2 linked regions of the Homo sapiens genome follow. The protein of the gene in region 1 interacts with the protein of each later gene in a pairwise test. Each region holds a gene or a part of one and is shown on either strand. Other genes may lie near its edges. The genes, in order: SH3BP5 and SPTBN1.

Region 1 (3,917 bases):
CCTAATACAATGCAAATATGTACATAGTTGTCATATACTGTATTTTTTTTTTTTCTAGAGAGCAAGGCAGTCTCGCTTTGTTGCCCAGGCTGGTCTGGAACTCCCGGCCTCCAGTGATCCTCCTTGCCTCAGCCTCCCAAAATGCTAGGATTACAGGTGTTAGCCACCACTCCTGGCCATGTATTTTTAAATATGCATTTTTTTAATTGTTGTGTTTTTTTCCCCCAAATATTTTCTATCTGTGGTTAGTTGAATTTACACATGTGGAACCTGAGAGGCTATGGAGGGTTGACTGTATATAGTACTGCCTGTGGTTTATTTATTTTTCTCATTTTATCTTTAGAAAGACTATTAGGATTAACACTATAGCTGGCCCAGATCTCCAAAAAATAAGACAACAAAAGTCTGAACTGATGTTCTTGAGCAGTTGGCCTATGTCTCATAGATGTATTTTGCTCTTGACCTAAGCTTAAGCAGGAATGTAGTTTGGAGTTTGCCATTTAGAATGGAGAGGATAGGGTTCTGCTAGCTGAGAAGCATTTATCATAGTCAGGGCTGACCCCAGAGTTCTGTTTATTTCAAACTCTGTCTCTCAGTTCATTCAGAGCTAGGATGTACCTGCAAAGTTGGAGGCTCAATTCCAAGCCACCAGAGAAGGTTGGTGGCTCCTGTGTTCCAAAGTGACCCCTATGGCTATCTTGTTCCTGGCTTCATCTATCATTGGAAAACCAAAAGCAACTATGTCTTTAGCAAGGAGCTTTGAAGCACCTCTCACAGAATTGCTGACTCATCCTTGATTTAAAGAGCAATGAACAGGTCTGACCTTTTTAGAAACAAACCATGGCACTACCTCCAGGAGACAGGACAAATTTCCTTTGACAGTGGACTACAGTGCCAGCGTGTATGGGGTGGTGCCTTGCCCAAGGAGTAACCCTCTAGCCTAGTTTCTGATAAAACCACCAGGAGCAGGACTATTTATTCATTTGAGAAGGGGTCTGGCTGTATTGTCCAGGCTGGTGTTGAACTCCTGGCCTCAAGTGATCCTTGTGTCCTGGCATCTCAAAGAGCTGGGATTACAGATACGAGCCACCACGTTGTGCCAGACCCAGGTTTTGTAAGGTGGCTTTGATGATAGGTTCTCAGAAAGAAGCTCCTTTCTCAAGCAAATTTGTCCTCCAAACTCAGAGCCGATGGGCTACAGGCCTCCGTGTAGGACATGTGCACGTTCTGCATTTCTCAAGGCAAGGAGACGTGAGCAGCCATGTGCTCATCTGCTTTGCCAAGGTCATCCTTTGCGTTCCCCTGACATCACAGTGGCCCTGACATTTCATAAAAGCACACACACGTGCCTCTTCAGTTTGGCCTTTTCGGATGCTGTGTCTGCCAGGCCAACTCTGTCTCCCTACTTGTTGATGGTGGGCAGAAAGTCTCACTAATTCATAAATTCTTGGCCAGAGTGTGCCCATCAACAGGGGTTACACTTGCCACCTCCTTAAATCCCAGCTCAATGCATTCTCCATGCTCCTGGCTATTCAGGTAGGACCGCCGCACCTCTGTGTTTCGGTATGGGGCTCGCCCAGAGAGGCCGCAGCCTTCGGCAATGCATCAGTGCACGGAACCTCCGCCATTCCCAAGGTTCGCTCAAGAGGATGAGTGTGCTTTGGGTATAGGGTTTCGGCAAGTCTTGGTCCTGAGGGCCAGGGTCACTGAGCGTAGGCTTCAGAAGGCGACTTCAGTGTGAAAACACCCACGCCTCCCTACCACACAAACAACGAGCCTCGGAGGAGGGCTGGAGGAGGGGACTCCCGAAAGCGGGAGGCTTGCGTTACGTAGTTGAGATATATCCGAGCTGCTAAGTTACAAGGGGGTGGGGGCTGTCCTATTTTGCCACCTTGGAGATGTGGAGGGAGCTGGGGTTTTGCGACGGAGACCTGGATAGCTGGGACTGGCGGCGGAACGCGAGGCCGGGGCGGGACGGGGGCGGAGCGGGCGCTGCGCTGACTGCCGCGGCAGAAAGGGGGCGGCCGCGCCCATTTCCTCTGCTCCGCCGCGGCCGGAGGTATCCGCATCGGCGAGCTGCGTCTCCCGGGTGTCGGCCCCGGCGGCTCCCCGACCGTGCCCGGCTGTGGCGAGGCGGCTCCAGCCCAGCCTGTGGCAGCCGCGACCCCCGGGGCGCTCCGGAGCCCACTGCGCGGCGCGCGTGCCGGCTGCCTGCATGGACGCGGCACTGAAGCGGAGCCGCTCGGAGGAGCCAGCCGAAATCCTGCCGCCTGCCCGGGACGAGGAGGAGGAGGAGGAAGAGGGGATGGAGCAGGGGCTGGAGGAGGAAGAAGAGGTGGATCCCCGGATCCAGGTAGGGCGCGCGGGGTCGCCCCGCATCCGGGCTTCGCGAGGGCTGCTACGGAGGTCGGTGTCTACGCGTACAGCCACTTCGCAGCCCCCAGTAACTGTGGTCCGGGGACTGGCGGCCACATAGGGTGGCAGGAGACGGTCTGTATGCTCCGTTTCATCGTCTCCACAATGAGGAGGCTACAGTGCCCGCGTGGATGCGGCCTGACTCTATTGCGGGGAGTCCCCCGCCGACCCGTAGCAGGATCGGGGTCGGTGCAGCGTGCCTGGTGGTTCGGGTGGATGTGCAACAAAGGGAAAAAGGGGGCGGGGGCGCCATGGTATCCTCGGGGGTACCCCTGCCCGGCCGCGGCACCGCGGGCATGGCACGGCGTCCAGGCTCTGCGAGGAGGTGTCGCCCGCGTGGGCGCCGGGCACCGTGGGCGGGTGGGCGTTGCCCTGCAGCGCGGGCTGGCACCGGTGCCCCGGGTGCAGAGTCCTCACTTGCCAAGGTGCCCGGCCTGAGCCGTTTTCCTTCTCTGATTGATTGTTAGCGAACTGAGCGGCTTATTGTCATCACTGGCTCAACGTTCTGCCTGGCTTGAAATTGCTTAAAACCCTGCTTTTCCTTGTTGTGAGGTTGGGCATGAAAAGAAATCGGGGACAACTGATGCGCAAAGCTGACGCGTGGAGGCGGCGAGGGGATTGGGCTGGCTGGCTGTGCCTCCATTTCCAAGAGAGATGATTAAAAAACAATTTCCAAGCCGAGATCTAGGAGTGACAGTTTCACCTCTTCACCCCTAAGCAAAAAGCAGAGCAAATCCCTTTCTAAGGCCCGTTTTTTTTCTACCTTTTCAATAAATCATTTTTTTAAAAAAATTGCTTTTAAGCATGCTCTGTAATTTCTGGATACCTAATTGGTTTTTTAGTGCACAGATCAATTTAAAAGCTCACTTAACTCAGTGGTTGGGGTTTAAATGAATTGTTTTGTCAGCTTAGCAAGATAAAGATCAGGTGGAAAAAAAATCCTTGCATTAGGAATGCTATTAATTAAAGTAATTGGTTTGGAATAAATCGTGTGTTACTGGTATGGGATTATGTTAGCAAGATCCTTTGTTTGCATAGTAATGATGAGTTAAGTTCATGTTGGATACTTTTTTTACAAAATGTCAGTTTGTAAATGTTTATTGAAAGGAATGGGATTAAAGCTAGTTTAAAACGTCCAGCTAAGTAGGTTGAATAATTGGCAGTGTGAAAAGATTTTCACCCTTTACAGAAAAATAATTCTGGTGAGTTAATACCAGAATTCTGCCCTTGATGATTTCACTGGGTTTATATTTTTGGCTTGGCCTTGCTTATTGTCTTTTATTGTTTTCTAAGCAAAGTTCTTGCTCAAGGCAGATGGTACTGTTTTGATTAGGCCATTAAACCATTTGTAACAGGTGGGGTTTACCTGAAGGCATGTACCTGGAATAGTTGACCTCTGACAAATTCCAAATGTCTCTGAAGACATTGTCAAAAGGGACACCCTCAAGAAAATGGTTTCAGAAATGCCGACATTCATTTGCTTTTCTAGTCAAGCCTCAACT
Region 2 (3,917 bases), on another chromosome or scaffold:
TTTGTAACTCTGTCATTACTGGAGTGACCAAAACCTTCATCTGAGAGGAGAAGTATTGGGCAGTGAAGGAACTGCTGTCACTAGGTCGTCTCCCACAGTTGAGGTTTTCTGTGAAGAACTTCTCTTGGGCAAGACTAGTAACAACTATCTGTGATGTTGCAGAGCAAATGAGAAGACCTCCCTCTACTTGTGACACATCCTGAGCAGAGGCTTGGCATTGGCAGAGTTTCCTGGAAGGGTTTGTAGAGTGGTTGCTTTGTCTTGATGTTTGAATGTATGACTTTACATGTGGAAGTACTATTTTGACGTGGAAGGATTTTACTACTGCTAACATAGACATGATTAGTGGAAATCATTCAGTGTGGATTTTGTCGAAATAATTTTAAGCTTTTCTTTTTAATAGCATATTCTTATAGAACATTTTAAAGCCTAATTTTTTTTACGTGCAATGACATGATGCTCCTTTAATTATGTTGCATCGTAACTAGTATCTTCATTATAATTGGGCTTTATTTAATGGCAGCCGTAGTTTCTTTCACTACATTATTGGAAATGCAAACCATTCTTCCAGAAGGAAGGGGCTAACTACCCCTGTTAGAAGAGTGAACTTTGTAGGTCTGTGGAAGTGAGTAAAGCATCTCATGGGTTTTTCTTGTAAATTTTCAGTCTTTGCTTTTTCTCAGGGCATCTTTTCTTTGCAAAAGACCTAGTTTAGTACTCTGATTTTTCCGGTAGCACTTGTAATTATATTTAAATTTTTATTGTGTGGGAATAACATCATCTATTTTTTTCTACTCAGTGGTTAAAGGAAATTACACCAATTAGATATACCTGTGTTTCTATTTTTAAACATCTCTGGAGAAGGCATTTTCATAATGTCCTTTGCTATCATAGTGAGGTTCACGGACCTTCAACATTAGAATCGCCTGGAAGCTTGTTGCAAATGCAGATTCTTAGGCCCCACTCTGAACTCAGCCAATCGGAATCAACATTTTAACAAGACCTTTAAGTGAGTTGTATGCACATTAAATGAAGAAACTCTATTCTGTTCCTTCAGCAAAGGGACCTCAATATCAAAAGTTTCCTTCTTGAATTTTCCTTTCTTTTGCTGAAGTATCAGCACATTTTTTTCCTTGATGGTGGTGACAAAAGTGAGGCTCTCACTGTAAATTATTTGTTTAATACAAAATTATTTTATAAAGCTGTTCTTTAATTCTTGGTGGAAGAGTCCTATATACCATGGTTTATTTAGATTAATCAGTGTTTTAGGTTGTTTTGTAAAACACCTCTAAAGTTGAAAAACAGTCTTTTTCCCCTCTGGAAGAAAAAGGCATTGGTTTTGAGACATCAGAGCTGGAGCCTCGGAAGCTAACCCCTGAGCAAAGGGTCCTCTCTGCTCCCTCTGCTCTGGCATCTTGATGTCTGTCATCTGATATAGTCAATGTCCTGCCCTCTCGTCCAGTCTTTTCTTAGAGTTCTTTTTTGAATCAACTAATTGGTAGGTACAAAATAATGTTCCTAAAATATATGTTAAAGAATCGTAAACCAGCTGGGTGCAGTGGCTCACGCCTGTAATCCCAGCACTTTGGGATGCCGAGTGGGGGCGGATCACTTGAGGTCAGGAGTTCAAGACCAGCCTGGCCAACATGGTGAAACCCCATCTCTACTAAAAATACAAAAATTATCTGGGCATGGTGGCAGGCATCTGTAATTCCCAGCTACTCGGGAGGCTGAGGCAACAGAATCAGTTGAACTGGGGAGGCAGAGGTTGCAGTGAGCCGAGATCGCGCCACTGCATTCCAACCTGGGTGACAAGAGCGAGACTCTGTCTCAAAAAAATAAAAATCATAAACCAAGGGACACTCAGGCAGCCACCGGCTAGTTCAGGAAGAGCCTTATACATTCAGAGCCCACCTCCATCATCCCATCTGAAACAACCCATATCCTTGATTTTGTGCATATCATTCCCTTCTCTATGGTTTATCCTTTTTAAAAAATCTTGATTGTGTATGATTTTGAACTTTATATCAACAAAATTATACTTTATGTATTCTTCTGACTCACATATTTAGATTAAGATTCTATTCCCAAGGTTTATCCATTTCATGGCTGTATTTCATTCAGTTTCACCTGCTGTATAGTATTCTAACGTGATTTATTTATTCATTGTACTCTAGATGGAGATTTGGATTGATTCCAGGTTTTTTTGCTATTGTGAAAGGGTTGCTGTGAGTGGTTTTTGTACACGGCTCTTGGTACATATGTGGAGGCACACACACCCATTTGCTGTCTCTAGGGAATGAAATTTTCTGGCTCACAGGGCATATGCATCATCAGCCTTAGTAGAGAATGTAGAACTGTTTTTTACAAAGCGATTATGTTGATCGTGTTCCCACTAGCCATAAGTGTTACAGTTCCAAAGCCTTGCCAGTGCTTCACATACCAGGCTTGAAAATCTTGTCCAGTGAAACATTATCTCACTGTGATTTTTATTTACAATTTCTCTGATTATTGAGTTTGAATGTCTGTTTACATTATTAACCATTTGGGTTCTTCGTTTTGTGAAGTACCTGTTCAGTCTTTTACCCATTTATCTTATTAATTTGTAGTTCTGTATGTAGATTACTACTAATCCTTTGTGGATTACATGTCTTGCGACAATTACTTCTCAGCTTGTGTTTTTTTTCTTAACTCGAATTTGTGATTTCTTTTGATGATCGGTTATTTGTAATTTAGCAGAGTCATAATCAGTATTTTGTCCTTTAAAGTTTGTGAGGGTAATTTTCTTATTTCAGAAAAGTTTTTCTTTGTTTGGAAAGAGCATTCGTTTTGGAGTCAAACAGGTTGTGGGCCCAAATCCTAATGGTGTTGTATACTAGCCTTATGGCTACCACTAGGTACTGGCCTTGAGCTAGTTAGTTACTCAAGACCACAGTTTCCTCATTGGAAAAATCAAAATAATATTAGTTTCTCTTAGTTATGATACAGCAGTGTACAGTTCCAGGCACATAGTACGTATTTAGTTGATAACAGTTGTTTCCTTTCTGTTGGGACTGCCTAAGCACTATGACCCACTGATCCCTTTTGGTATGCTTTGCAAAAACTACCTAAACCTTTTTATGTCAGGAGAGCTATTAAATGGCTTATTCTAACTTTTGTATTTTAAAAGGCTGCATTACCAATGGCATTTATATATTGATTAATACAGTCTGAAGAGACCACTTACTAGAAACCCTTATCAGTTTAGGTTCTGGTTCTTGAAAGTAATGTAATTACATTTATTTGTACACAGTTCTTTTGACCATTAAGCATTTATAGTATTAATGATCTTCCTTTACTGCTACTCTGAGATTACTTTGTAATATTGTTTTTTATTTAATGAATAATTATTGGATACATTATCTTGCCAGGACTTGAAGTTGTTATGGTTTTGTGGACTGGCTTAAAGTTGAATAAGAATTAGTTCCTGAATGAAAGGACTGTATACTCTAGTATATGGAATATATTTTATGTACTATACACAGAAGGTAAAATACCTTTAACAGGCTGGATGTGTGACTTTGGCAAACCTTTAACCCTCCGGTCTCAGATCTAATTTTATAAAATGGAAGACTTAGATGAAATCATAGTGGGGGTTAAAACATGGCACATGCCATCACTCGCTTCTGTTCCTGGCAGACATCGAAAATCAGTAATGGTACTCTTTTTCCACTGAGCTGAGATAGTCTCAGTCATATTCTCGACATGGTGTTCTAGGCAGTAACTACCACTCGATTAAATCTGGCATTCAGTTTTTAAGCTCCTGTACACTTCTAAATTCTGTGATTATAAGATACTTGAGAAACTCATCACCTTGGCAGTGTTCAGAATACAGTGAGACTGGAAGAAACTAGAAGCAAGGAGACAGGAGAGAGGTG

Evidence for each region.
Region 2: the proteins of SH3BP5 (region 1) and SPTBN1 interact in a two-hybrid assay, tested with the Homo sapiens proteins (2 studies listed by BioGRID and IntAct).

What each region holds. Positions count from the first base shown.
Region 1 is NC_000003.12:15,330,707-15,334,623, reverse strand, and holds the start of SH3BP5 (SH3 domain-binding protein 5), read left to right. Parts: upstream 1-2,037; 5' UTR 2,038-2,215; coding exon 2,216-2,353; intron 2,354-3,770; exon of another isoform or gene 3,771-3,825; coding exon of another isoform or gene 3,826-3,917. UniProt on the Homo sapiens protein: Functions as a guanine nucleotide exchange factor (GEF) with specificity for RAB11A and RAB25. Inhibits the auto- and transphosphorylation activity of BTK. Plays a negative regulatory role in BTK-related cytoplasmic signaling in B-cells.
Region 2 is NC_000002.12:54,459,171-54,463,087, forward strand, and holds part of SPTBN1 (spectrin beta chain, non-erythrocytic 1), read left to right. Parts: intron 1-167; exon of another isoform or gene 168-238; intron 239-3,917. UniProt on the Homo sapiens protein: Fodrin, which seems to be involved in secretion, interacts with calmodulin in a calcium-dependent manner and is thus candidate for the calcium-dependent movement of the cytoskeleton at the membrane.